2 linked regions of the Homo sapiens genome follow. The protein of the gene in region 2 interacts with the protein of the main gene of each other region in a pairwise test. Each region holds a gene or a part of one and is shown on either strand. Other genes may lie near its edges.

Evidence for each region.
Region 1: the proteins of STRN (region 2) and TRAF3IP3 interact in binary tests that used the Homo sapiens proteins (3 or more experiments, as listed by UniProt).

The regions. Positions count from the first base shown.
Region 1 is NC_000001.11:209,762,289-209,766,112, reverse strand, and holds part of TRAF3IP3 (TRAF3-interacting JNK-activating modulator), read right to left. Parts: intron 3,599-3,824; coding exon 3,451-3,598; intron 3,301-3,450; coding exon 3,243-3,300; intron 3,046-3,242; coding exon 3,021-3,045; intron 2,751-3,020; coding exon 2,721-2,750; intron 2,622-2,720; coding exon 2,526-2,621; intron 1-2,525. UniProt on the Homo sapiens protein: Adapter protein that plays essential roles in both innate and adaptive immunity. Plays a crucial role in the regulation of thymocyte development.
Region 2 is NC_000002.12:36,847,984-36,851,807, forward strand, and holds part of STRN (striatin), read right to left. Parts: intron 3,125-3,824; coding exon 3,017-3,124; intron 1,818-3,016; coding exon 1,731-1,817; intron 1,643-1,730; coding exon 1,473-1,642; 3' UTR 1-1,472. UniProt on the Homo sapiens protein: Calmodulin-binding scaffolding protein which is the center of the striatin-interacting phosphatase and kinase (STRIPAK) complexes.

The sequences.
Region 1 (3,824 bases), on a different chromosome or scaffold from region 2:
TCTCCCATCATCTTTCTTTCTCTGCTCAAGCCATCTTCAAGGTAGGGTGAGATGTCACACAGGCCGGTGAGGTTGTGTGCTCCATCTCTTTCCACCCGGTGCGGTATGCTTTGGTGGTGTCAAGCTGCTTGTAGCTCATATTAATACATGAATTTATAGTACATACTAATTTACAGGTTTCAACATGGGGATTCTGAGGAAACTTGGGAATCCCCAAGACCCTTTTAAGGGATCAGCAAAGTCTTACTTTTTCTAATGACATATTTGTGTGAAACTGAATTTTTCTTTATGTTTAAACCAATAGATTGAATACAGAAGCAAATTGAGAAGCTAGCTGTCTTTTTTTTCAGCCAGACATTAAAAATATTTGCAAAAGTGTAAAGCAATGATACTCCTGTCACTAATTTTGTTTTTGAAAATATGGTTCTTTTTCTTTTTCTTTTTTGAGACAGAGTTTCACTCCCATCGCCCAGGCTGGAATGCAGTGGTGCAGTCTTGGCTCACTGCAACCTCCACCCCTGGGACGTAAGAGATTCTCCTGCCTTAGCCTCCTGAGTTCCTAAGACTACAGGTGCATGCCAATGTACCTGGCTAATTTTTTGTATTTTTAGTAGAGACGAGGTTTTGCCATGTTGCCCAGGCTGGTCTTGAACTCCTGAGCTCAAGTGATCCACCTGCCTTGGCCTCCCAAAGTCTGGGATTACAGGTGTGAACCACCGCACCCAGACTGTTTTTCTTAAAACATGTAATTCAGGTTAGCATGAAAAATTTTACTCTCATTATTTTAAAATTAATAATTCTTTCTCAATTTCTATCTTAATTTCTTCCTTCCTTCCTTCCTTCCTTCCTTCCTTCCTTCCTTCCTTCCTTCCTTCCTTCCTTCCTCTCTCTCTCTCTCCCTCTCTCTCTCTCTCTCTCTCTCTCTCTCTCTCTCCTGTCTCTCAGAGTCCTGCTCTGTCATCTAGGCTGGAGTGTAGTGGCACTATCATCGCTCACTGCAACCTCCACTTCCTGGGCTCAAGCGATTCTCGTGGCCCAGCCTCCGGAGTAGCTGAGATTACAGGTGTGCACCACCACGCCTGGCTAATTTTTGTATTTTTAGTAGAGACAGGGTTTTGCCATGTTGGCCGGGCTGGTCTCTAATTCCTGACCTCAGGTGATCTTCCTGCATCAGCCTTCCAAAGTGCTGGGATTTACAGACATGATGCACGGCACCTGGCCAACTGTTTTAATTTCTAGTATGGTAAATATAAACATTTCTTATATATTTTCAATAATTTAAAAAGTATAAAGGAATCCTGAAATAAAAAAATTGGAGAACCATTTTACTAGACTGTGTCATGCCTTTAGATTTTTTTTTTTTTTTTTTGAGATGGAGTCTCGCTCTTTTGTCCAGGCTGGAGTGCAATGAGGTGATCTCAGCTTACTGCAACCTCTGCCTTCTTGGTTCAAGCGATTCTCCTGCCTCAGCCTCCTGAGTAGCTGGGATTACAGGCATGTGCAACCACACCCAGCTAATATTTTTGTATTTTTAGTAGAGACGGGGTTTCGCCATGTTGGCCAGGCTGGTCTTGAACTCCTGACCTCAGGTGATCCACCCGCCTCGGGCTCCCAAAGTGCTGGGATTACAGGTGTGAGCCACCACCCCCGGCCTTGCCTTTAGACCTTTGCCTGTACCCCAACTAAAATACTATTCCTTCTTCCATATTTTCCTGGCAAATGCTTATATAAGTATTCCCCTGGCTCTTTTCTTCTCTGGAGTCACTCATTCCTTCTTGTATTTTCCTATATCTTGAAAACATTTCTTTTATTTTTCATGTTTTTGTATTGTTTAGTCATGTGTCTTTCTTACAAAACCGTGAGCCTTCTCAAAGCAAGAACCCTATCTAAATAATCTCATTATTTCTAGTGCTAGTCCAGTGCTCTGTATAGAGGACATAACCTATGAATATTGTACATTGAATGGACTAAAATCAAAGGCCTGAATTTTAGTTGCAGATCTGCCACTACCTAGCTGTGTGACTTTTCGCAAGTTACTTGACCCCTATGAAGCTCAGTTTCCTCATGGGCAAAATGAGAGTATTAGGCCAGATTGTCTCTAAGGTCCCTTCCCACTCTGATATTTTTATTCGGACTGAGTGGGTACATGGCATGCTGGTTTCGATAAATATCAGTGGGAATCCCATATGAAAATATTTGACATTTAGCATATTTAGTAATGTAAACTATATTGGGATCTTCCTTCATTCCTTCCAACAAATTAAAAAATGGGAATTCTTGCCACTTTTGTTTCTGGGTCTTCCTTGGATATGTAGCACCATGACCCTCAGGTGATGACCCATATATTTATTGTGACCTGTTTGACTTCTAGGTCTGAGCACCATCCCCCTCATCTCCTGCCTCTTCCCAGCTTACTTTTCAGTAGTGAGAAAACCCCTTCTCTTACTGTGATGATGTGGAAAGAAAAATGAGATGGGAACACATAGAAGCCCAAGCTTTGTTCAAAAAGAATTTCATTCCCTTACCTTCCAAGAGCTGTCAGAGGCCTGAATCAGAGTGGACAGTAGGTCTTGGAGAATCACCATTTTCTGTTTTAGGACCAGCTCCCTTTGTAGGGCCTCCTGGGGGTGCGGGCACAAAGTGCAAGAGGGTAAGATTAACCTGGAGGATCGGGGGTAAGTGGATGGAGGAACTGAGGGGAGGGGTCACATGCCACTTACTTTGAGGTAATCAGAAAGCTGGATGATTTCCTGGAGAGAAAGAACAAGGGTATTCAAAATGTCTGTAAGTCCCCTGAAACCCTGGGATATAGAACCAGAGCCTGGGCTGGCTTGTGTAGAGCAAACCTCTTCTGCTTTGGCTCTGACAGGGTCCCTTTAGTCCCCATGTCTATGCTCAGTACCCCCTTGCCATCCAGGAAGAAGATGCCCCTCCATCCCAGCCAAGTTTATCATGGAATTCCAGAATGTCAGAGCTTAATACTTTCTGATTTGACCCCTTCAAAGTGAATATGTGCTTACCTTATCCAGAACTGCAACTCCGTAACTGGAAAGAGAAGAAATTAAAAATAATGATAATGGACCAAAGAATCAAGTCAGGAGGCAGTGGGTTGATTCCTTCTGAAGAGCCAGTAGGGTGGGGAAGGGCTTCCTCTTTCTTAATTAAGGCGGACATGGAAATTCATTGTGTTCTCTCTAGAGAGGAATGGATGGGATGTGAGAGGGTTAGGGTCAGGAACTCACTTGGTTTGCTGACTGGCATCGTTCTTAATTGTTGGTCCTTCTGCCTTTGTCTGAGTACCTGAGAGATGGAGGATAAGTTGATTTAGAACTTACAGGGAGGAAGTGAGGGAAGTGGGGAGGGACAGGGACTCTCCATTGCCAGTGAGCTGGGACAGTTGTCTCAGGATTCTCTGCAGGCCCTGTGGAGTGAGGGAGGCTCTGCTCTTACCACGGTGGTGTTTGGGTGGCTTCTTGATGGGAGTGTCCTGTGGAGGAAGGCCCCCAGCCTGTGAGGAGAGGTGGTCAGACAGATCCCTGCAGATGCCTGAGGGAGGAGGATGCTGGGCTGGAAAGACTTCAGAGCTGGTGCCTGTCACCTGGAAGGCAAGTGGGGAATGCTGAAAACCACTGCCTGGAGCCTCTTGAAAGACTCTCCTGATGATTTCGGAAGGAAGAACTAACCATCATGTTTGTTATGGACTGAGTGTTTATTGTCCCCCCGCCCAAATCTGTGTGTTGAAATCCTATCTCCCAATGTGATAGTATTAGGAGGTGGAGACTTTGAGAAATAATTAGGTCAGAGCAGGTAGCCCTCATGAATGG
Region 2 (3,824 bases):
GGTCTCTGTCATTTGGGACAAAGAGTAAGAGAGACATAAACCACTATAGAAATAATGTCTTTATGACAGGAGACTAGGTCTAGATAGCAGGGTCTTCAGAATCCCAAAAGGTGAACACATGTAGGTGGGTCACAGGTAAGTTGGGCTGGGGAAGCCTGGCCTTTTAAGGTGTGGATTTCCCCAGAAACAATACTGATCCACTGCCCATTAAAACATGTATATCTCAATTAAACAATGGGGGAGGAATAGGGAGAGAGAAAGACAGAACTTTTTAGCCAATATTTGGCATTAAACTCTTTCATCCAGGTTTCCAGGAGATTCTTACAGGGATTAATAGAGGACTTCTAGGGTACAAAATATTTGTTTTTATTAGTGCTTCTGCAAAAGCAGCTGCGTGAAGTTAACCATACTCTTTGGGCTATTAATAATTATGAACTGTTCTTGGTAGATGTCAGATAACTTGAACGTGACAAAGAAGAAAGAGCACAGATCATCTGAAGCATGATTAGGTGGGTGTTGATAAATGATTATTAGCAAATAAATTCTATCTTTTCAGTCACTGAAAAGTAAGATTTCATTGGTATGAAATAATCACTCTGGTACTATAAATGTCACATGAATAAAGTGAATTTTAAAATAGAAATTATTAAAGAGATATGCCCTGTTTACCCTTAAAAATAAACAGAATTTCAAACCTGAATAAGTTAAATCTGTTAGTAAAAGCAGAGTCGATCAACTATTCTTCACAATGGTGAGTGCTTGATAGCTAAACTTTAGAATGATACCAAATCTGTTTTCAAAACTGTAATACAATATAGAAATCTGCTTGCAAACTATTTGTCTAGCATTTCTGAATAATAATATATTTAACATATTATTGCATTTTTCTCCCCCTAACAGGTAAAATGCTTTGCCAGGTGCTTTATGTGAACAGCTGAAAGGAGAGTCAAATTAAAAACTCAGTTTAACACTGCCTGGTCATTATACACAAAGGGGTTAATATGGCAGATATGATAAAGATTACTATTTTGACTACTTAATGTGTTTTAACAAGATTTCTCAGGGGAGAACTTGGTCTAAGTTTCCCGTTTTCTTCTATTCAGTCCCAGCTATCAAGCTTTTAAATTATCCATTGTAGCATGCCCTACTTACTCAACAGGGACAAGCTAAACTTGTATTCGCTCAGGCCTGCCTAGCGAATTAGAACCACCTCAGAAATAAAGGCGCCTATTGGGGAGAAATTTGAAACAGACCTCAGGCTCACAGATTCAGCTGAGCTTGCAGCAACCTGAACAAACCTTAGTTTTAGAAAACAGTATATGAATTGCAAAACTATACTTCAACAAATGTTCTCTGTGCTCCTTCAGCAGAACAAAAGGGCAGGACGAGATGATTCTTGCCCTCGTCTTCTGTATCTCTTGTGTGCAGTTGATTACTTATAAACAGCTAGAAGGTGAAGATGATGCATTGCGTCATACAAAGACTTTAGCCAGTGCGTCAGCTCCAGCACTGGCTATATAGCATTTGGATGGGTGGAAAGCTACATCATGAATCGATTCTTCAAACTTTTTTCGATGAGCTGTGAATTCTTGGATACACGTCTTACTTTCTAGATTCCATAAACGTATTGAACAGTCATGACCTATATCCAAAAAAAAAATTAAAAGGAAAAATTACATTAACATGAAAATGGTAAGGACAAATAAATAATCCATAGTTGAGGTACTTACTGCCAGACATCAAGTAAAGGCCATTGGGATCAACTGCTAAACTTGTAACAGCTTCTAGGTGGGCTACCATCGAGTGGATCAGTTTGCCTTTGGAAAAAGAGATTGTTACTCCTTATTAATGCCTTTCCTCATCTTCAATATTTGCCAGCTACCATGTCCTGCTGGTTTCTCCAGTCATCCCTCTCTGTGTGCTTACTGTATTAATAGCTTTTTCCATCACCTAAAACAACATGTCTCCCTCTTGCCTCTAGTCATGGCAATGATATGGAAAACCAAAAAAAGCTCAAATTTTAGATTACACTTTTGTCTTTTAAGCCACGATATGGAAGTCAGTAATTTCTACACGCAACCCTTAAGCCACGTTTGTTAATTAGAACTTAGACATTATTAATCACCTACTTTGCATTCTTTAGCTACTGGCAAATTATGAGTTGTGGAAACACAGAATTCAAATTCACAGAGAGAAAACAATGAGGCAAGGAAAAAGGGACAGAAAGAAAACATGGCCACAATTTTGGTGGATACAACATACAGAAAAAAATTTTAAATATTAAATGATTCATCACCAGCAGCTAAACAAAGTCAGCAGAAGTCAACATATTAACAAGGCAGATACTTAGGTAAATATGGCAGCTAATATAGGGTGCTTTCCTCCCAGCACAGTGCTTCCTAAATTTCCTTTATACTGGTGAAATGTAATAAAATAAAACTTGGGCAAATCTCCATGCACAATTCAAATCAATGAGGACCAACCAGTCAGTTTTATAATACAGAAAAGATTAGTCTATGGAAAAACGAATACAATGACCTGGAGGTTTTCCATCCGCAACACTAAAAAAGGCTATTTGGTAATGGAATAATTGAATATTGAATAATGCTATTCAATAACTGAACAACTTTAAACAAAATATAATGACCATATGCCTCTATTTCCAATGTTTCTACTTTTCCCCAATATATAATACTACAATAGATCATAGCAACAGATCATTTTTATTTGTATTTGAGTGAACTTTTCCTGGTGTCCCTAGTGATAACCTTGGCTCTAAAGCCTACATATAGCATCTGCTCACTATTAAATAAACCAAAATGATTCTGTATTGTATAATAAAGACTAGTCTTAGCAGATTTGGATAGAGTGAAGAGAAACTGAGACGGGAGAGTATTTGGGGTTCAGTGCCTATTCCCTGACTACGAAACCACCAAGAGACACCAAAATTAGCCTACTTGTGGTAGGGATTTTTTTTTTTTGCTTTAATAAAAATCAATTCTTAATAAATTCTTACCTGTATTGTTATCATAGAATTTGATGTGCCTGTCTTCATGAGCAGTGATGCTGATCGGAAGAGTAGGATGACTGATGACTCTATTTATTTGGCAGGAAGAGTTGGCTGCTAAAAAGAAAAAATTAAAAAGCAACACAACTTAGTCAAAGATATTTTTCACACAAAGGAGAACTGAATTATCTATCTAAGAGACTGAAAAAGTAGGCCGGCCGCGGTGGCTCACGCCTGTAATCCAAGCACGTTGGGAGGCCAAGGTGGGTGGATCACGAGGTCAGGAGATCGAGACCATCCTGGCCAACATGGTGAAACCCTGTCTCTATTAAAAATACAAAAATTAGCCGAGTGTGGTGGTGCGTGCCTGTAGTTCCAGCTACTCAGGAGGCTGAGGCAGGAAAATCACTTGAACCCGGGAGATGGAAGTTGCAGTGAGCCGAGATCGTGCCACTGCATTCCAGCCTAGGTGTCAGAGCGAGACTCCATTTCAAAAAAAGAAAAGAAAAAAGAAAAAGAAAAAGTAATAATGTGACTTTCATTATTTGTCTTTAGTTCATTTATTCTGTGACTGTTTTCAAAATTTCAATGTTAGGAAAGAGAATTGCCTGATAAATCTGGAAATATTTATAAATTACAATTTCCTGCTATATGTGGGTGCCATCTATGGCTTAGTCTAGAGCCACTAACGCTGTTCATTCTACAATGTTCTGTGAGATTTTGCTACTTTAAGTAAGTTCTATCATCACTTACATGGAGATAATTCTCAAATTTAAATCTCAGCTCTTTTTGCATACAAAGTTCTGTATCACATCAT